3 linked regions of the Homo sapiens genome follow. The protein of the gene in region 3 interacts with the protein of the main gene of each other region in a biochemical or structural test. Each region holds a gene or a part of one and is shown on either strand. Other genes may lie near its edges. The genes, in order: PLCB2, PLCB1 and TRPM7.

Region 1 (7,417 bases), about 10 Mb from region 3:
GGTCTTTGTATGTGTACATAACAAGATATTAAAATTAAGGTTTCCAGCAAGGCACAATAGTTGCCGTATACTAAAACAGACCAAATGCAGCATTTACAAGGTGAATGATCCAAAAAATGTTCTCAGATCAGAGGTGGTTAGAGTACAGGGAAAAGGGAAAATTTTTGTGGAGAAGCCAATTTTAAGAAAGCTGTGTTGGGAGCTCCATTCCCTTACCTCCCCAAGGGAGAGTTGGAGTGCCTGATCCCCCACCTTAAGCCTAGTGAGGGGTTTCAACTCTACTTAGAGAGCTTTTGTGATCTCTTTTTTTTTTTTTTTTTTTTTACCTTAAGTTCTGGGATACATGTGCAGAATGTGTGGGTTTGTTACATAGTATACATGTGCCATGGTGGTTTGCTGCACCTGTCAACCTGTCATCTAGGTTTTAAGCCTCGCATGCATTAGGTATTTGTCCTAATGCTCTCCCTCCCCTTTCCCCCCACCCCACAACAGGCCCCTGTGATCCTTGAAGTTGTAGGCATAACAGACAGAGGTCGGACTCCTGCCCAGGAGACCAAGTGGACTACAGCGAGCTAACTGTGTGAGGCAGAGCAGGGGGTGCTGGCCTGTTGGACAAGCCTGCACCCTTGGGACAATGGATGCATGGGTATTTGCTGGGGTCCAGGGTGGGCCCATGGGAGAGTGGGGGCAAAGGGCCTAAAGCCACAGGAAGCTGAAGGTGGTAAGAAGGGGCTGAAGACATAGTTGTGAGTGACCCCTAAAATAGAAATGCTGGGGGGACTTCAAGCAACAGGTTCCCATTCGAAGGGGTGGGTCTCCCAAGAATCCTCAAAAATGTCCTCCAGAGAAAGAATCAGCTTTAAGCTTCTGCCAGGCTCAGAAAGCATGAGCCAATTTATGACAGCACCTGTTTAAATAGAACTTGGTTACCCCTTTCCCACCTCCCTCCCTATAGCTCATGCCTAGAGGGGCCTTGAGCAGGACCAGCAGGGAATCCCACCAAGGCCCTTTCCAGGGGGCCTGCAGCCTACCTGAAACCATTCCTAGAAGGAGAAGGGTAGAAGATGTCAGTGTAAATAAAGGTTGGAGTTTTGATTATAGCCAGTTTCTGACATCGGACTGGATTTTGTGATGAAAAGTGACCACTGGACTGTGTTACCTGAGAGTAAATATAATGTCTTGTGGCCTTGCAGAGTTTCTTTCCATGGCCAGGGGGAGAGCTTCTCCTACCAAATATATTGTAAAGAGGCCATGGGAGATGAAATAAAGTTGGGATTTGCTTACATCCTATGTATTCTGCTTATTCAACATGGCACAGCACACCCATGCCATCCACTAACTGTGCCAAAAGCAGCCTGAAAGCAGAGCCCTGTCTCACAGCAGCATGGACCTGTGGATAGGCTTGGGACATTCTTGCTTGTGCAGGTCAGGATCCAGAGAACATCCAATGCCCTACCTTGGAGAGGGGAAGGGAACAGCCAGGTACACAGGTGCCAGCTTAGGAAGAAGGACAGTCTCCGCTGGCCACCAACCCCCGACCTCCACTGCCACCCTGTGACCCTCTGCCCAGTCAGGTTACACACACTGCCCAGAGGAACTGAGAGAGGCCACTTCGCTTTTCATTCTGAGCCACTTCCCTCATTCCACAGGCTCCTGGGGCATGTCACCTCCATGCCACTGCCATGCTACACCAACCCCACATCACTCCTAGGGAAGCAGGAAGCATCTCACCACAGGGCCCCAACCCATAGTCATGGGCAGCGAGATCCCCTAGCCTAGCCCAGCCCCGAAGGGCCTAGACCCAGACCCCCTCATCCCACCTCCCATCAGGTGGACAAGTCAGCACTAAGGGCTGTCTTCCCTCCCCCACCAAGCCTTCATTTCCCTTCCTGGGACAAGCCCAGCACTCTAACTCTCAGACTGGGCGAGCCCAGCAGCCTCCCCTCCCTGAAGGAGAATCTCCATATTGTTCTCTCCAGCCTAAGAGAATCCCTGGCCTAAGGTAACATTTTCAGGGGCCAGGAGAACCAGAGCCTGGGAGCAGCCCCGTGTAGGAAGGAACAGACACAGCAGAGAGAGGGCTGCAGGGTGCAGCAGTGTCTTCCCCTTCCCTTGCTGACAGGCCTGCATCGGGGAGCAATGCTGAGCCCAGCAAGGGGTAGCAGAAGTCAAATCAGCTCCTTCCCTGGGAGCAGAAGCCTCTAGTTCTCACTTAGGTCCAGGGGCCTTTTGTGGCTGCCCCCACAGCAGCGCAGGGGAGAGCAAGGCTTCCCTGGACAGGATGATGCCCAGTGGAGGGGGTGAAGGAGCTGGGTCTGAGCGCCCTGCCGGAGCAAGGGCAAGACATCTGTGCTGGGAGCGGGGACGAGCTCACCTCTCCTCCTAGCCTGCCTCAGCTCTGGGGTGCACTTTCCTCCTCTTCTCTTGGGGGTTTGAAGGAGAAGAGAAGCAGACCCAAATAAACTACCTCCAGTGACCACCCAGGCAGCTCACCCACTTCTCACACCTAGAACCAAGGCTTAGCCCTTTAGCTGGGGACATACACCCTTAATCCCAGGTTTGTTTATCCAAGCAGTGGTGTCAGCTGCCTGGCCAAACCACACAGGCGCCTGGATCCTAGGAGACATAAACCAATCCTCCCACCCAAGCAAAGCCCCGTAGCAGCCCGGCCCCCACCACCTGGTGCTCCAGCAGCTGAGGCCCCTGCCCCACTTACATCATCCCATTTGATGAAGCGCTCCCCTTGGCTCAGATAGGCCTTCACCTTGGGGGGCAGCAGGACAGGGTTGAGCAGAGACATGGTGCCAAGCGTTCCTCTTTGCAGAATCTCAGCAGACACAGGCAGGCAGAAGGGCAGGAAGGAGGCCAGCCAGGAGGGGGAGCCAAGCTGGGCTCAAATGGCACCCATCCCCGAGCTGCTCCAGAAATCTAGTTGCTCTTATAGCCCCTGGGGTGGCCCTGGCTGAGTGCAGGACTGAGCTGTAGCCAGAGGCCCATCTGCCTTGTAAATCACCCTCCTCCCACCCGCCCTGCCTGCCATGGGGGCCTGTGGTCACTGCTTCTGCCCAAGGAGGCTGAAGCAGGAAGCCCCCGCCTCTTCTGGAGGCCCCCGCCCCCACCCCCAGCCCCACCCTGTGCCTCTCAGCACTTCCTGCTCTGGGCTTCCTTCTCTGCGCTGCTCACAGCGGAGACGTGGTCATGAGGCCGGGTCGCCTTGGAGCCAGGGCCTCTCAGTCCCTGTGGTGGTCTCTGGTCAGATTTGGCCCAGGAGGGCTGGAGAAGGACGACATGGAGACCAGCTGGGGAGACTGCTGCCCAGGCCTGGACTGAGGGAAGGCACAGGGAGCTCACTAGGAGAAAGGACCTCCTCAGGGGAAGGGTCCAGAGCATGGGCATCTGACCCCAAAGGTTGGGAGCACCGTAGAGGCAGGGGTGGGGTGGGGACAGGGCCCAGCTGGAATGGAGTGTTTTGAATAAGCAAAGTTTGCTGAACACACGGCTCCTCTTTCTCAATGCTTCCTCCCCCATGAAAATGAGGTGCACCTGCCGGGCGGGCGGGTGCGGTGGCTCACGCCTGTAATCCTAGCACTTTGGGAGGCCGAGGCGGGCGGATCACGAGGTCAGGAGATCGAGACCATCCTGGCTAACACGGTGAAACCCTGTCTCTACTAAAAATGCAAAAAATTAGCTGGGCGTGGCAGCGGCGCCTGTAGTCCCAGCTACTCGGGAGGCTGAGGCAGGAGAATGGCATGAACCCAGGAGGCGGAGCTTGCAATGAGCCGAGATGGCGCCACTGCACTCCAGCCTGGGCGACAGAGCAAGACTCCATCTCGAAAAAAATAAAAAAAGAAAGAAAATGAGGGGCACATGAGGCAAGGCAATCACTCCCCTCACCCACCTCACCAGACTCCCACCTCTGGGCCTCTGGGACTGCCTGAGGCCTGGACCCCCACTGAGCAGCCCTAGCCCCTGCCTCCACTGCGCTCTCCTCTCTCCTCCGTGTGCCCGCCTCTGCTGTGTACCCCAGCCTGCAGCGGGGCTGGGGCGGAGGGATGGCTGCTCTGGTTGGCCAGGCTCAGCCCCAGCTGCTCAGGTGCCTGACCCACACTCTGCCCCAGGCCCAGGGAGTTCAGCACCAGTCCAGCTCAGCCCAGCCCACTTCCTCTTGCCTAATCTGCTCCTCTTATCGCCCTTCTTAGCCCAGCCTGGGAGGCAGGGAGCTCTACCCAAGACTTCCTTCCCCTCTGGGGCCTGGCCTTTTGCCCTGGGTCACCCCCCCATGGGGCTTTGCATACCCCCAACAACGGTAAGACCCTCACCCAGGCCCTAGAATTGTCGCGGCTGGAGGTCTGGTCCAGGGCAGGGTGGAGGGTGAGGGAGGACACTCTTCATGCGGAATTAAGATAATAAACTGCCCAGTGGAGGCTGGAGCTAAGGGAATTCCCAGCACAGAAATAATCTGCAGAAGAGCAATTCTAGGGCCGGGGGATGGAGCCGGAGCAGGGCCTGACCAAGCCTCTGGAAATGGTAACAATTCAGAGGACTCTTCTTCCTCGTTTCCCCCAGTCCCTTAGCGTCATCTCTCCTCTCTCCCTCCCTCCAGTCTGGGGCCCTTCTGGGGGCCCCTCTGGCAGCCCATGCTGTTCTGGGTTCCTCCCTGGGATCAGGTTCCCTCGATATCTGTTTGAATGGATTTTGCAAGGGAAATCCCTGTCCCTTCCCAAAGCCCCTGCACCTGTCACCTGCGGCTGCCCTGGTCCCGGCACCCAAGTCCCTCCCTTTCATCTGTCCTGTAGCCATCAGCCCCCTCTCCACTTTGGGCCTGGAGAGACCAGTCCATTCCTCCCCCTCAGCCTGAGGAGGAAAGGGACAGCCTCCTCTCCTCATTTCAGGATTTCAGGGCTCCTCACTCTGTTCCTTTCCATCTCCAGCTCCGAATCCACAGAACAAAGCCTTGCCCATCTTTACTCAGTGATGTCACTGCCTGCACTGTTCTTGGGACCACAACTGTAGCTTCAGTGGGGGCCTGTACTCTCCTGCTCACATCCTGACCTCCTGCAAAGCTAGCTCCAAAAATGCAGAAAATCCAGGCAGTCAGGAGAGCGGAAAATCTTCATCAAAGAGCTTTTTGCTTTTAAAAATACATTTAGGTTTGAAAATTTGTGTTGACAAAGAAAAATGTTATGTAAATAATAGTAGAGAAAATCAGGGTAGTTACATGAATGCCCCGTTTGGGAAATGTGGCCTTGGGCTCCTGGGCTGAGCTGGGTAGAGGGCAACCCTGCAGTGGGCCAGTCTCACCCCTCCAGGGTGGGCAGTGGAAGGGCAAGGATGCCCCCTGCTGGGTGCACTCAAAGCATGCATGTCCTGGAAGTTGCGGTTGGGTCTGTCATTTGTGACCCACGGGAACACCTATGCCAGAGAGTTTGGCAAGTGGGAGCCTTGGGCCATAGAATGTGGTAAGAACTTATATTCAACCAAATGTTGCCTCCCACAAGGGACATGCTTGTGACCTGGACCCCAGCACATATGTCCCAAGTTCATTTGTTCACTTGCCAGTGCTATGTGGGAGCCCCATGCATTGGTTTCCCAGTTTGCTCATCAGAGAAGTTTAATGGCAGAAGTTGAACTCAGACCTTCAGGTGCCACAGCTGCCAGCCAAATAAGAGGATCAGACTAGGTCGGTTTCTTATCTGATGCCATGATGGTTGAAGCAGTGGGTTTCAGGAGTGTGGAACCCTGTTGTCCATCTTGGTCAAGGGCTGGCCCTCTTTTGGAGGGAAGATGGCTCTTATGGTGTCTGTTTCCCAGTCTGGCAAAGGGAGCCACACTCACCACTCTAGGAACCCAGCCACTTACTAGCTGGTTTATCTTGTGATACTTAACCTTCTTGGGCCTCAGCCTTCTCACCTGTAAAATGGGGATAATAATGCCTCATGGGGATGTTGCAAGGATTAAAGAATATAATGAATGGTACTTAATACAGTGCCTACACATGAGCTCAATAATACTATCATTATCATTATGAGTTATCATTGTTATTTTATTATTACTTATTAGCAGACACTGACAGGAAAAATGGCAGTTTCTTATTCCTTCTTCAACAGTTCTTTCTACAAACGTCTTCACTGACTTTCTCTTTGGATTTTTCTTCCAGCAGTTCGTGTGGATCAGGGGCTGTACCCACCTTTGCAGGGCAGACTGAGTTAGGGTTGCTCCTGTCTGTGGACTTGAAGCAAGCTGTTCCCAAGCGGCCTGAACTCATGAAGTGATGAGCACAAGGGCTCCAATCATGGGCAAGTGCCAGCCTCCCACCAGCTTCATGCCACCACAGCCCCCCAGCTGATGAGGCACAGATGAGAGTGCTGAGCTGCCCAGCTGTGTGTCCCTCTGTGGCCCCAGCTTCAGCCACCCTCTGTGTACTGAGAGCTAAGCAGAAGTGGAGGCATGGGCAAGGCTGGGTAGCCAACACTGATCCCTTAGGGAGGAGAGAGGCAATCAAGTTTCCTGTAGATGCCCAGGAGGAAGATGTTGCTTGTCTTCCCATTCCAAGCCCCTCTATAACCCGACAAGGAACCATCTGGGACTTAGAAGTGGAAAACAAACTGGGCATGGTGGCTCACGCCTGTAATCCCAGCACTTTGGGAGGCCGAGGCGGGTGGGTCACGAAGTCAGGAGCTCAAGATCAGCCTGACCATCATGGTGAAACCCCGTCTCTACCAAAAATACAAAAATGAGCCAGACATGGTGGCACACACCTGTAATCCCAATTACTCAGGTGGCTAAGGCAGGAGAATAGCTGGAACTGGGAGGCAGAGGTTGCAGTGAGCCAAGTTCACACCATTGCCTCCAGCCTGGGTGACAGAACGAGACTCCATCTCAAAAAAAAAAAAGTGGAAAACAATCAGTCCATGTATGTTTCTCTTTGAAGTGCTATTTTGGATCAAATTTACCTGTGTCCATCTTCAAGAAACCCAGAGTTTAGTCCCCACTGGAGCAAAGGTTTGTTCTGTGATCTTAGCAAGTTACCTGAGCCCTTGAATCTGTCAAACTTTTGATCATTTCTAAGAATCCTTCCAGCTCTAAAAATCTCTTTCCACTTGGAAGGGCCAATCTTGTCACTTTTCTCTCTTGCCTTTCCTCTGAGAGACAACAAACCTAGAGATGAGAGCTGTAGGTGGCAGGAGAGGCTTAGCTCTCATCCCAGTGTGACATTCTTGGGCACAATCACTCCTCTGCCTCTGTCAATCCCTCTGTGAAATGGGCCAGTTTTAATAAGTGTGATAGAAATAAATTATATGATGTCCTCCTCTAGGTGGGCACGGTGCATTGCATATAGGGAAGGTCATCAGTATTGATCAATTGCTTCTGTTCTTACTCCTGTCCTGGTCCAACCTTTTTTTTTTTTTTTAGAAGT
Region 2 (7,135 bases), on a different chromosome or scaffold from region 3:
TGAATGTCCTGTAACATTACCACGCTTTTACACAAGAAGCAGCAAAAATACAGAGAAGCTAAGTGATTTGCCTAAAGTCATGCAGCTTACTGGTGAAAGAACTAGGAGGTAAACTCAGGCCTTTGATTCAAGATCTGGTTCTTTTTTGTCTTCAACACACTGTCTCACTAAGGTACAATATAAATAGCCAGATAACTTGAACTGGCTTGATTCTGGAAGGGCAAATACGAGCTGAGAAGAGTAGAAAAGGGATGCCTGGGGAAGAGAAAGGCAACCTTAAGAAAGGCTGGGTCCCTTGTAGTCCACTGATCAGCATGAAGACCCAGAGAACCAAAGAGCCTGCAAGATAGCTCATTATATTCCAGATAACTTGACTCCTGAGTGCAGTCTAGGTTTTTTTTTTTTTTTTAAAAAAGACCTGAAATTCTTCTGGTCTTCTCCTTAGTGACTATGTCCTTTCTTTCAGGAGGGCTTCCTTGGAAACTCACTGCTGCAATGCTCAGAAGGAGCTCTTTTCAACTTCTTCTTTGGTTGGTATTTCACTAACGTCCTCTCTATTACCCTCAATGCATCACCCAATCTCTCTCTCATTGGTGTTTTTGATGATTTTTGTCTCCTCCACCTAGCATGTAAGGTCCGTAACAGCAGGGATTTTGTCTACTTTTTTCACCACCCCAGAATCCAGTCTAGGATTGGCAGTAATAGGTGAGCAAGAAATATGTGTTACAGAAATGCACATAATGAAAGTCATCTACCTGGATATACCAAAATGTGTTTTCATAGAATACTTTCATTCTCAATGTGATGTTGGCTATTCTCTCCCAAACAAGAAATTATAGAGAATTATTTAAAATACAGTTTAGAATCATCACTGTATACAAATCCAGAGCTTACGCTGAAACTCCCTTTTCTAAATTCTGCAAAGTCTCTTTCTCTTTCCTCTGCCCTTCACTCTCTTTCTCAGTAAATCCATCATCACATCACCTCTCTATTCAAGGATCTCAAAATGGGCAAGACCGTCTTGTTTATTGCTGAACTGCATTTTCTTTGTCTTTTTTTTCCCTGACACAAAGCATTTAATCTGCGTCTGAATTTATTGTTTAGATTCTATTCCATTTACAGAAACATTCAGTACAATTAGACTGGAACAGAAAGAAGAAAAGTGTGAAGCCCATGGTAAAAAGATGTATGTTTACATCCTTGCCTACAGCATTTAATAATTGGCACGAGCTTTCAAGGAAGCTGTGGTTCATACTCCAAGTTCCGTTTGCGCTTCCAGCTGGACAAAATATAGACACAGACGCACTCAGCTAAGTAATTGGATTCACTACCTGGAATATTTAAATTGTTTTCAGACACTGGAAAATGGCTTAAGAAGATTAAAGAAAAATACCCTAGAGGATAACAGGCTATAATTTACTAGGTGGAAAATCTTTTCGGCAAGAAGAACGCCTCATTCTCCTATAATTCCTTCTGATTAAGAGATGTATTAGTCATTTGGACTTAAATTTGCTTAGAGCCTGGCAACTCGGGTTTATTTCAGTAGGTTTTTCTTATCGAACCTTTAGAATGACACCCAGGACATAAAACTGATACCATAATGTTCTCCATCCGAAGATTCGCATGTTTTCAGCTGGATAACTAATTTACGTGTTTTGAAGACAACTGGGGTAGAGGGGAAGGGGAAGTCATTTGAAGTCCTGGGGTCTGGGCCGCTCGTAAAGCATTAGAGACCCCGGCGCTGGGCTAGGCTCTGCCCTACCTGGCAAACGGTGCAGGTAAATCGTGGGGCAAACTCTCAACCTGTCTATTTCAGGCAGAAGACTCCAATCAGCTCAGTTCTCAAAAGTCAGCCCTCCCCACTTGCCTGCAGGCCCATGAGCCCTCCAGGACCCCTCAAGGGCCCCCATTCTGTTCACGCCCTCCCCAGATGTGTCCCCGCAGCCCTTTTCAGGGACCCTCACTCCGGAGCCAGGCGCTGAAGTTTGGCATCAACGACCACCTGTTGGCTGGACCGTTGTGTCCTCCGCCGCCTTGGCTCCCACAAAAGCGCCAAGAGGGTTCGCAATCACTAAAGTGTTTTGAACTTCAGGTCCTTCCTTCTTGAAATCGGGCAAAAGAGGTAATAGGGGGTGCGTCCGCAGGCGGAGAGGGACGCGATTTGTTCACACCAGGCGCTTTCCAGTTGGTCCCAACTTCACACTCCCTACTTTCCGAACTCTCAGGACCTGTCACCAGGCAAAGCTTGCCCCTCCCTCTCCACTGGCCCAAAAGATGTAAGACCCTCAGGGGGCGCCTGCCAGACCCAGAAAGGATGGCAACTACTGAAGCCCGATGAAACAGGAGCGCGCGCAAAGCTTCTGCCCTTGGACATCCGCTTTGGCAGATGCCAACCTGTGCGCCCGAGGCTGCCCCTGCCCGCTCCCAGTGCGCCCATTGCATAACGCGCCCCTTGCCCCACCCCCACGACGCCCGCCCTGCCCGGTGCCCGAGCCAGCGCCCCGACTCGGGCCGCCCCAATACTTACATCATCCCACTTGACGAATTTGGTGCCCTTCTTGAGGCTGTCGGACACGCACACGGGCTTGAGTTGCAAGGCGTGCACTCCGGGTTGAGCCCCGGCCATCTGGGCTCATCTGGGCTCCGGGCGGCCCGGGCGAGCGCGGCAGGGACTGGGGACCGTGCGCGGGGCGCGGGGCGCGGGGCGCGGGCTCCTTTCTCTGCTCCGGAGGCGCTCGACTCTGCTCCCCGCCGGCCTCCCCGGCCTCCCGGCCTCCGCACCTCCCTCCGGCGCCGCTCAGCAGGCAGAGCGCGCGGGGGCGCAGCGCCCGGCCATGCCCCGGGCGGGACGCGAGGTCTGGAGCCCGCGGTGGATGAGGAGCCTCGGAAGGCGAAGAGAAGCCGAGCCGGTCAGCCGAGGCTGCCAGTCGCGGCGGATTCTGCTCCTCCGCCGCCGCCGCCTCAAAGCGCACCATTCAGCACATCCTCTATACACAGAGGGAGAGAGCGAGTGACACACGCCCGGCGCCCCCCCTAACCGCTCTTTTCCCTCCTCCCTCCTCCTCCCCCCCGCCCCCCTTCCCCGCCACCCTCGCTCGCTGGGTCCTTCCTTCCCCCCGCGGCTCCCAGCCCAACTTTGCACGCTGGGTCAGGCGCCAGGAAGCGGGGACGCAGCGGCACCTCCTGGCTCCCGAGCCCCATTGCAGCCAACGCCTGCCTCCCGCATTCGCTCTGAGCATGCCCCGTGCCCTGGTTGCAGAGGTGCTAGGGGTCCCCAGGAGCCTTACGCTCTTTGGGGTTTTCTTGGGAATTTGGGCTCGAGCTCCGGAGCGTCTTTGGATCCCAACTGGCTGGGAAAAGGGGCCCATCGGGAGGAACCAAAGAGGCAACCCCTGGCTTTTGGCTCTAGCTGGAGCTCTCCAGCGCCAGCCACAAACCAGCTTTTTGAAGAGAATTATCATTTATCAGCAGAGAAGAGCGCAGTTGAGAGGCTCTTTGAGGAAACCTGGCCGCGCCTGAGAGTTTGCAGCGCGCTGATCTTGAAACCCGGGCAAACGGTTACGTTGTGCTTTCGAGACAGAAAGCCCATCCTAAAGAAAGCAAAGGTTTTATTTTCCGAGGAAGAAAGAGGGTGCCCTCTCCCGCTCCTCTCCTTGAGTGTGTAGGATGTGTGGCGGGTGGGGGAGAGTCTTATTAATAGAAACTTGCTCATTTAGGAACATAGGTCCAGGAATGTTTGTCTTCACTCCTTCCACAAACATTTCTCAATTCAAGAAAGAAAGGGAGGGAGGGAGGGAAGAAGGGAAAGAGGAGGACCAGAATGGATAAAATTTTAAAGACTGGTAATACCAAATGCTTGAAAGGATGTGGAGCAACTGGAACTCTTTTTTTTTTTTTATTAAGGAGAGAGAGGAGAGGGAGAGAGAGAGTGAGTGAGTGTGAGAGAGAGAAAGAGAGAGAGAGAGAGACACACGCGGGAGGTGGGGGGGCGGAGAGAGAAATAGCTTGGAACTCTTGTTCATTGCTGGAGGGAATATAAAATAGTAAAACCACTTTGGAGAATAGTTTCTTATAAAGTAAGATATTTACTTATCATACAACCTAGAAATTCCACTCCTAAGTATTTGTCCAAAAGAAATGAAAACGTTCAAGTCTGCAGGGACTTGTAAAGTGATGTGAAGAACTTTCTTCTTAGTAGCCTGCAAATGTCAATCAACAGGTGAATGGATAAACAAACTGTGGTATGCCCAAATATTGGAATACTATTCCACAATAAAAATGAGTGGGCATGCAAGATCAGGGATGAATCGCGACTTTAAGCTTTGTAAAAGAAGCCGGACACGATAGACTGTATGCTGCCTGATTCCATGTGTAGGAATTGCAGAATAGGCAAGATATTCTATGTTGACAGAAAGCTTGCCTGTGGCCAGGGATAGGTAGAGATGGACAGGGAAGGGCTACGAGCACCTGATGAGCATGTCGGAAATGTTCTATATCGTGTGTGTGTTTATCAAAACTTGTAAGTTCTGTAAGTACGCCTAAATTGAGTGCAGTTTGTTTTAAATAAATTATATCTCAAAAAGGTTGATTTTTAAAAAGAAGAAAGAATACGAAGAGAGAAAAATGGAGAGAAACACTACATTCTCTTAATCCTTCATTCTCCCTGTTCTCTGCCCTCAGGACTCCAAGGCCCAATGCTTATGAACTCAGTCAAAAGATTACCAAAATCCAATACAGAAATTTGCTATTAAATATTTCAATGCATTTAAAATATACTTATTGGTAGCCAGCTGTATACTAGCCACTATTGTAATCACCATGGATAACCTGGTGAACAAGACCCATGACTCTTGCTGTCATTTGAGGGTCTTGCCTTGTGCTTGGAAGCCAATTGCTACAAAGAATTTCATGAAAAACTGACTGGTTTCATTTTGATCACATGTCCCTAAACTAAAACCTGAATGGTCCACAGTCCCTCTAGCCAGCAGCCTTGGCTTGCTAATTACCTCACAGAAGGTATCAGTCACCGTCTCAAGTCGATTTTCTCTACTTCAGAGTACTGCAATGAAACTCTGCTTCCAGGGCTCCAGAACTTCTCAATTGTCCTTACAACTGATCATACCAAATTGTTTTCCTTTCCTTTCCTTTCCTTTCCTTTCCTCCTTTCCTTTCCTTTCTTTTCCTTTTCTCCTTCTATCTCTTTGTTATTTACTGGAAAGATTATTGGCCAAATAGTTTTTACCTGTCACAGTGGCTTAGGAAGGCAAGACAGGGCTGCGCTCACTAGAAGAGGAGATTGGAGAGTTACAATGAGCTCTAAGCAAAATAAGAAGTAGATTGAGCCTCCTGTGGTAGTTTATTGCATCATAGCTCTCTGCTCCCTGCTCCTTTCTGCGTCCACACATTTTTCTTTGTGACCTTACAGTTTTTACTAGACACCCTGTTTATTTATCCATCCCATTGATGTTGGACAATGTGACTTGCTTTGGCCAATGGCATGTTTGAAGATGTGATATTAGCAAAGGCTCAAAATATGCTTTGAGGTTGGGCTTTCCCTCTTGGGTTTCTTATCATTTCCATGAGATAAACATGCCTCAGGGAGCCTCTGATCTAAGGAGACAATCAGGACAGACCTAAGCCCCATTTACAGCTTGGAAGCAAGTCCAGTAGAAACCATCCTAGATCTCCCAGACTCAGCCAACCTGCAGACTCATGAACATGACAATAAACGTTCATTGTTGAATGGCACTGAGTTGGGAGTCATTTGGTAACCACCATTATTGGCAATGGATAGTTGAGTATTTCATCTAGCATCCCTGATTCCTCCCAGCTGTTGCTGTGAACGTGGACGTAAAAAGGAGAGAACGCTGTAGAAATCTGAACAGGATTTGTCTTCAAGACAAACATGGGCTGCAAGAGTTTCTTCAGCCAGCAAAATGACGCAGTTTGTTAAAGGAGAACTACAGGATAAATACCTTCAACATGTAGCATGATGCTTGAAGCAGCATGGTTTAACTCCCTCATTTTCCACACCTTTTGTTCAGTATACAAGATAGAAATGTTTCTAAAGTGTGGAGTTTTTTTGTTTTTTTCCCATTCTTTTTTTTAAATTATTATTATTATACTTTAAGTTTTAGGGTACGTGTGCACAACGTTCAGGTTAGTTACATATGTATACACGTGCCATGTTGTTGTGCTGCACCCATTAACTCATCATTTAGCATTAGGTATATCTCCTAATGCTATCCCTCCCCCGTCCCCCCACCCCACAACAGTTCCCGGTGTGTGATGTTCCCCTTCCTGTGTCCAAGTGTGGAGATTTTTGCTATGCAAAGGGATCTGTAAGAAATCCAAAATTGTGTGAGCCAGGCCTGTGATCCGTCAAGTTCGGTGCTGTGTACTGTTTTTTGAAACAATAGGAAGGTCTGTTTTTTGTGAGAGCACAGAATTGCCCTCTGGGAATGTCAGCCTCAGGGAGCTGGCAAAGCTAACCTTTATTGAGCACTCACTGTGGGTCAGAGCACTAAGCTAAGCACTTCCCAGACACTAAAAAACATAACCCTTCCTATTCAACACCACTCTCCACCCTCTTTTTCTTGTAAGCAAACCCTGACTTAATTTGGGTGGTCGTCATGCTTAGGAAACATGGCCCCTCTCTCTTTCCAAGGAACAAACTATGATTGGCCTAAACTAATGTCAATAATTCCATTCCCCTTTGTCTGTAACTGGTTTAAGAGCTATATGAGGGGCTCAGTTCTGACTAATGTCTTCAGGGAAATTCTCTTTCTCTGTCTCATATTGTTATGTAAAGAGGACACTGACAAGAAAGATGCAAAGAAACCTGGTCCTTCATGAGCTTTTTAAACCCTTTAAATTTTCTTTAGACTTTTTAATGAGTGAGATAATAAATCTCTTTATTATTTAAGCTTTATTGTTACTCTCAGCTGATCTGGTAGATAATATTATTGTATGCTATTTTACTGATTTATATACTAAAGTTTGGAGGATGGATTAACCTCCTCCAGTTACAAAATTCGGAATTGAGATGGAGACCTAGGAAGTCTGACTTTAGAACCTAGACTCTTAACTACCATGGTAGATACTTCTACAACTTATAAGGCAGATATGAGTAGTT
Region 3 (7,108 bases):
TGTGTTACTTTGATGTGGGGTAATTGGAATAAGTAGCCTGTGGAACAAAAACGTTTTTTGAAATCTTGCATTTTAATATAAGATTAGCACTGGATCCTTCTTAAACATAAGGTAGGCCTTGTATAATTAAATAACTGTACCTTATTTTATATCTTGTTTAAATGCATGTGAAATTTTTCTCTTTTTATCATTATTATTTGAGGCTACAAAATAAAATTCTACATTATTTTTTCACATTTGTAAAAAAAGCTTATTTCTCTCCTACAGAGTGGAACAGATGTGCATTCAGATTAAAGAAGTTGGAGATCGTGTCAACTACATAAAAAGATCATTACAATCATTAGATTCTCAAATTGGCCATTTGCAAGATCTTTCAGCCCTGACGGTAGATACATTAAAAACACTCACTGCCCAGAAAGCGTCGGAAGCTAGCAAAGTTCATAATGAAATCACACGAGAACTGAGCATTTCCAAACACTTGGCTCAAAACCTTATTGATGATGGTCCTGTAAGACCTTCTGTATGGAAAAAGCATGGTGTTGTAAATACACTTAGCTCCTCTCTTCCTCAAGGTGATCTTGAAAGTAATAATCCTTTTCATTGTAATATTTTAATGAAAGATGACAAAGATCCCCAGTGTAATATATTTGGTCAAGACTTACCTGCAGTACCCCAGAGAAAAGAATTTAATTTTCCAGAGGCTGGTTCCTCTTCTGGTGCCTTATTCCCAAGTGCTGTTTCCCCTCCAGAACTGCGACAGAGACTACATGGGGTAGAACTCTTAAAAATATTTAATAAAAATCAAAAATTAGGCAGTTCATCTACTAGCATACCACATCTGTCATCCCCACCAACCAAATTTTTTGTTAGTACACCATCTCAGCCAAGTTGCAAAAGCCACTTGGAAACTGGAACCAAAGATCAAGAAACTGTTTGCTCTAAAGCTACAGAAGGAGATAATACAGAATTTGGAGCATTTGTAGGTAAGTTTGGCAAATTCGTATTTGTATATCAATATTATTTACTTTTCACCTTAGAAATAATAGAAATATGTACTGTTACAAGTCATTATCTTTTCATAGAGTATAATTATAAAATTTTTAAAAAGAATCAGACACCTGTGATTCTGGTACTTTGGGAGGCTGAGTGGGGAGGATTGCTTGAGCCCAGGAGTTGAGGACCAGCCTGAGCAACATAGCAAGACCCCATCTCTACAAAAAATTTTTGGAAGTAGCCAGGCGCAGTGGCATGTGCCTGAAGTCCCAGCTACTCAGGAGGCTGAGGCAGGCGAACTGCTTGCACCCAGAAGCTGAAAGCTGCAGTGGGCTGTGATCACACAACTGCACCATAGCCTGTGTGACAGAATGAGACCCTGTCTCTAGAAATGAAATGAAAAAAAAAAAAAAATCAGAAGTAGGGGAAATAGACTGAATTAGGCTATAAGAGTTATATTGGCACATAACCTCTTTGATGGAATTTTAGGTTCTGTCTTTTGAATTTGAATATCTTCAATTGGGTTTCATCAACTCTTGTTGAAAACCTAAGTGATTCTTAAGTACTTGGAGAACCTCATAGGGGAGGTTAGAATCAACTGGAAAAGAACAGTGCCCTATAAATAGATGACCATATAATTTTTTTACCCAAACCAAGACACTTTAAAAGTGAAAGGGTGCACTATTAATAATTATATCAGAACAACAATGGAAATCTAGGAATCTACTGGGAAAATTAGTACTTATGGTGTACCTATTTATATATTCACAGAGAACATTTCAAAAAGGAATGACTTATTCTTATACCTATGATAGCTTAAATAAGATAAGAACAAAAAAAAATGTTTATTTTGGCAGTAACACATTAAAGACCTTAGTGAAAACTTTCATGCATAGAGATTATTCAGACAGTATGTTAATAAGCCCATGGAAAATTGCCACATTAAGGCCAGCCTAGGAAGTTATCTAGGCACTAAACATGTTGATATTACTTCTAGGCTATATGGGATTCACTCTAGATACATAGATATAACTTTTCCTACGTTAAATATATTCCCCCTTTTTTTTTTTTTTTTAAAAGACGGAGTCTCCCTCTGTCGCCCAGGCGGGAGTGCAGTGGCACAATCTCGGCTCGCTGCAACCTCTGCCTCCCAGATTCAAGTGATTCTCCTGCCTCAGCCTCCTGAGTAGCTGAGATTACAGGCACACGCCACCACACCTGGCTAATTTCCAATTTATTTTTAAAAATGCATTTTAGCCTATTTGTTAATGTATTACCAGTGGGGTGTATGTATATATCATATATATTTTCTCTACATGTATATTATATAGGAAAAGTTACATATCTGTATATCTAGAGTGAATTCCATATAGCCTAGCAGTAAGTATCAGCATGTTCAGTGCCTGAATAACTTGCTAGACTGGTCTTAATGTGGAGATTATACATGGGCTTATTAACATGTTGTCTGAACAATCTCTATGTGTGGAACAGTTTTCATTAAGGTCATTAAAGTGTTATTGCCAAAATATTTTTGTTCTGTTTTTGTTTAAGTTATAGGCATAAGAATAAATCATTCCTTTTTGAGTGATTATCCGTATATATGTAATGCTTTTTTTTTTATTAATAGTAAAAATGCTTGGTCCCCTTTTTTCTTTTAAATTTCGAGCTATTTATTCATATCACATGTTGGTTTGTTTTATAAGGACTTTGGCTTTTAACGTTACTGTAAACTTAACTATAATCTTGGCCAGGTGCGGTGGCTCAGGCCTGTAATCCCAGCACTTTGGGAGGCCAAGACAGGCAGATCTTGAGTTCAGGAGTTCAAGACCAGCCTGGCTAACATGGTGAAACCCTGTCTCTACTAAAAATACAAAAATTAGTCAGGCATGGTGGCACGTGCCTGTAGTCCCAGCTACTCAGGAGGCTGAGGCAGGAGAATTGCTTGAACCCGGGAGGCAGAGGTTGAAGTGAGCCAAGGTCACACCACTGCACTCCAGCCTGGGCAACAGAACGAGACTTGTTCTCAAATTTAAAAAAACAAAAAACAAAAAAAACTGTAACCTTCACCAGCTTCTTGGCAATTTTCAATTTTATTTATCAAAAGAGCTAAAGGAGACTGCAGAGCCATCAAGTGTACTTGAAAAACAGCATAAACCTATTGTTTTTATAAACTTTAAGCAGTGCCATTATTTCGGTGAAGAAAAATAAAAATTTCTCATTGCAACATCTTTTTTTCTATTAAAGGACACAGAGATAGCATGGATTTACAGAGGTTTAAAGAAACATCAAACAAGATAAAAATACTATCCGTAAGTAAATCCTTATTAAAACACCCACAGTTCTATTTATTTTACTGTCTTGATGTTTAGTTCAAAATTTAATTAAACATTTTTTCAGCAAAAATACAGTTTTAGCAGATATCATTAACATGCTGATACCAAATATTTGAAGCTGTCCTCAGTTTGAAAAAATGAACAATTGAGGAACATGAAAAGGTACAAACAGCTTGCGTAATTATACTCACTAAATAAAAAACATCAGCTATTTAACATTTCTCTCTTTTTTTTTTTTTTTTTTTTTTGAGACGGAGTCTCGCTGTCACCTGGGCTGGAGTACAGTGGTGTGATCTCCGCTTACTGCAACCTCCACCTCCCGGGTTCAAGTGATTCTCCTGCCTCAGCCTCTTGAGTAGCTGGGATTACAGGTGCGCATCACCATGCCTGGCTAATTTCTGTATTTTTAGTAGAGATGAGGTTTTACCATGTTGTCCAGGCTGGCCTCAAATTCCTGACCTCAAGCGATCCGCCTGCCTCGGCTTCCCAAGGTGCTGGGATTATAGGCGTGAGCCACTGTGCCCGGCCTACATTTCTTTTTTAAAAATTTCTTCTCCCCATATGTTTTCCACTGATTAAATACTTAATGAGCTCACTCTTCCCAGATCCAAAAGTTTTATTTGAACATGACCCTGACTCTTAGAAACCTATTGTCTAGCAGTGAGAAGCTGTATATTATGTACAAGTGCAAGATAATTTGATAAATGTTTGTTAAATAAGTTTCAAAATATGTAGAACAGCTGGCAAAAAAGGTGTATTCTTGCCTGCAAAGTTGGTTTTATTTCTTAAATGTTGCTCTCATATATTACTTGTGGCTATTTAGAGCCTTTGGAGTGGTAATGTGGCTACAACAAGATAATTAAAAACACCTAGAAAGGTGTTAAGCTTCTCTAGCCCTTAAAGAACTTACATTATAGAAATGTTAAGTGACATACACAGTGAAAACAGGACCTTTCCTAAAGCTAGAACCAAGGAAATGATAATGACGTAGGAGTTTCTATGAATGATTACTTTTTATGTGATCCAGGTGAATTATGTAATTGCTGTCAGGCCATATTACTTACTACCCTACATATAAAAAGTAGACTCAAATGCATTTTTATATTGTAACATTTTGTATTTTTATTATCATATTTTGATTAAAGTATTGTACTAAATCAATTAACTTAATTTAATATCTATTAACTAGATATTGATAACTTGGTATTTAATTGGTTATTATATGCAAATTGAGGTGTAATGATTACCTGGGTTTTTTCCTTTCTGTATTTGCCTTTAAGTTTGAGAATAGTTGCATAATTTTCTTACCTCAAATAGGAGCAGCAGAATGATGTAAGAAATGTGATTATGGAGTATACAGAGATGCCTAAATATGAGGTAAAGTCTCTTTAGTATATGCAGAAGTCAGAAAGTCAGCTTAAAATATACCCATGTGCTTTTAGATGGAGGAAATAGGTGTAGGTTCAGCGGACCTATCATAAGACTATAATTTGCAGTGTTTTCTAACCATTTTAATTATGGCATATTTAGACTGAGAGCTAAATAAATGGATCAAGTTCACTTAGGTAGCCTTAGCTGACACACGATAAAAAGAGAAAGAAGAAAAGCGGGAATGAGAAAAAGTGCTAGAAAGAAGAAAGAACAGACTGCTGTCTACCAAATTGGTTTTATAATTATTGCCATATGACATATGGAATATCTGTATTCCATATAGGGTTGAAGTAGATTTTATAGGTAAATGAAATGTTTTATGGACTTTCATAAGTTTTAGTAAAGCTGTTTATAATGTAGAATTATTTAAACCTAAGTTCATCACATTTTCTTTTTCTTTACACAAATTATTGTCATATTGCCACACTCTGGTGGTATCATTTTGCTATTGCGAAGCACTTGATAGAAGTAAGACATAAAATTTAGGATAAATGGACATTTCTTAATGGGAAAAGGTAAAGCATCAGAGTTTTCCCACAGATTTCACCTTTTTAATAATGAACTTAAAGAAAAAACGTGCTGAAAATTTTTAAGTGGCAGGTACTCCTTGATAAAAACAAGACATTGCAAGTTTCTGTGAGTTAGCAGAAAAGCAGTAGCTGTGTTTTGATTTAAACAACTTTTTTTTTGAGATGGAGCAAGACTCCATCTCAAAAAAAAAAAAAAAAAAAGCAGTATTTATTGAGCCAGTAAAGCCTTCAGGGCTTTCCAAACACATAAATAATAGAAAAATATTAAGGGAAAATGTAGAGATTTAAGTACCTAAAAAACATAGTCAAAAGAAATTTGAAATACAAATTGAAATCTGACAAAATAGTGAGCATATAGATAACCTTGTTGTATAAATAGCTCATACAAAGCAATAAGAAAGTTACCAAGATCCCCAAAAGGAAATAGTTCCCCCACCATTAATGTTATCAGTGTGTCAAGATACATGTAAGATAATAGCTTCTTTGGGGGTGAGGTGAATTCATAATGATTGCGTTTTTTCTCCACAGTTTTGTATATTTTTCCAACTTTTTTGTGAGGTTTTTTGTTTTCTTTTGTTTTTGTTTTTTTCTTGAGACGGAGTCTCGTTCTGCCAGCAGGCTGGAGTGCAGTGGCTTGATCTTGGCTCACTGCACCCTACGCCTCCCGGGTTCAAGTGATTCTCCTGCCTCAGCCTCCTGAGTAGCTGGGACTACAGGCATGCGCCACCACAACCAGCTGATTTTGTATTTTTAGTAGAGATGGGGTTTCACCATGTTGGCCAAGATGGTCTCGATCTCTTGACATCATGATCCGCCCGCCTCGACCTCCCAAAGTGCTGGGATTACAGGTGTGAGTCACCATGCCCAGTCTGAGTTTTTATTATTATAAAAAATTCATTTGGATGGATTTATGAACAGTAGGAAAATAAGGTGTTTTGGTGCAGCTTTTGAAATTGGCATTGAAGAAAATAACCATAATCTATAATACACCCATTGGTGTCCAGGTAGAATAAAGCATATTGAGCTAAATAGATCAAGGGACTCTAATACTACTTAGAGTAATGGGTTGAAATTTAGTTCAATTATTTTCAAATTATATGTCTGCACAATATTTGCAGAATAACAATACTTCTGAAAACACTTTGAAACGAGTGAGTTCTCTTGCTGGATTTACTGACTGTCACAGAACTTCCATTCCTGTTCATTCAAAACAAGGTGAGTATTTTGACCATATGAATAGTGTCAGAAAACATACTCATTTACACTTTAAATGTATTTTATGTTTGTCAAACACATGAGCAGTGAATGGTGCAGGAGTCAGAAGACGAAAATTCTGATCTGCCATAGTGACTGTAACCTTGAATAAGTCGTAATCCTAGCATTCATTAGAATGTTTTATTAGAATATGTTTTACAAATTGTTTATTCTGTAAAGATGGAATAGAAAAACTTTTTGTAAATCTGCTGCTTTTAGCTTTTGCAAATGTATCTGTTCATCTGTATCATGTTTTAATCTGTATCATCACTTATTCAACATATTTTTCTAGTTTAACTTTTAAAAATCATACATTTTTGGTTCAAAATTAAAATACACACACTCTGAAAATTTTCTCTCTCACTCTGTTCCCACATTTACCACTATTTGTCTACCCTTTAGAGTTTCATGCTTATACAGTCATGTATGACAGTACAATCTTATACCTCTCATTTTTTACACAAAAGGTCACAGACAATACATGTTGCCTTGTACCATTAATTTCTCATTTACTATATTGTGGTGATGTTTCCATATCATAATTTTTTATAAGTCAAGATTATATAT

What was found.
Region 1: the proteins of TRPM7 (region 3) and PLCB2 form a complex in vitro, tested with the Homo sapiens proteins (one study listed by BioGRID).
Region 2: the proteins of TRPM7 (region 3) and PLCB1 form a complex in vitro, tested with the Homo sapiens proteins (one study listed by BioGRID).

Annotation. Positions count from the first base shown.
Region 1 is NC_000015.10:40,304,873-40,312,289, forward strand, and holds the start of PLCB2 (1-phosphatidylinositol 4,5-bisphosphate phosphodiesterase beta-2), read right to left. Parts: upstream 3,064-7,417; 5' UTR 2,801-3,063; coding exon 2,717-2,800; intron 1-2,716. UniProt on the Homo sapiens protein: The production of the second messenger molecules diacylglycerol (DAG) and inositol 1,4,5-trisphosphate (IP3) is mediated by activated phosphatidylinositol-specific phospholipase C enzymes.
Region 2 is NC_000020.11:8,128,143-8,135,277, reverse strand, and holds the start of PLCB1 (1-phosphatidylinositol 4,5-bisphosphate phosphodiesterase beta-1), read right to left. Parts: upstream 3,013-7,135; 5' UTR 2,627-3,012; coding exon 2,528-2,626; intron 1-2,527.
Region 3 is NC_000015.10:50,585,786-50,592,893, reverse strand, and holds part of TRPM7 (transient receptor potential cation channel subfamily M member 7), read left to right. Parts: intron 1-267; coding exon 268-983; intron 984-3,237; coding exon 3,238-3,302; intron 3,303-6,405; coding exon 6,406-6,502; intron 6,503-7,108. UniProt on the Homo sapiens protein: Bifunctional protein that combines an ion channel with an intrinsic kinase domain, enabling it to modulate cellular functions either by conducting ions through the pore or by phosphorylating downstream proteins via its kinase domain.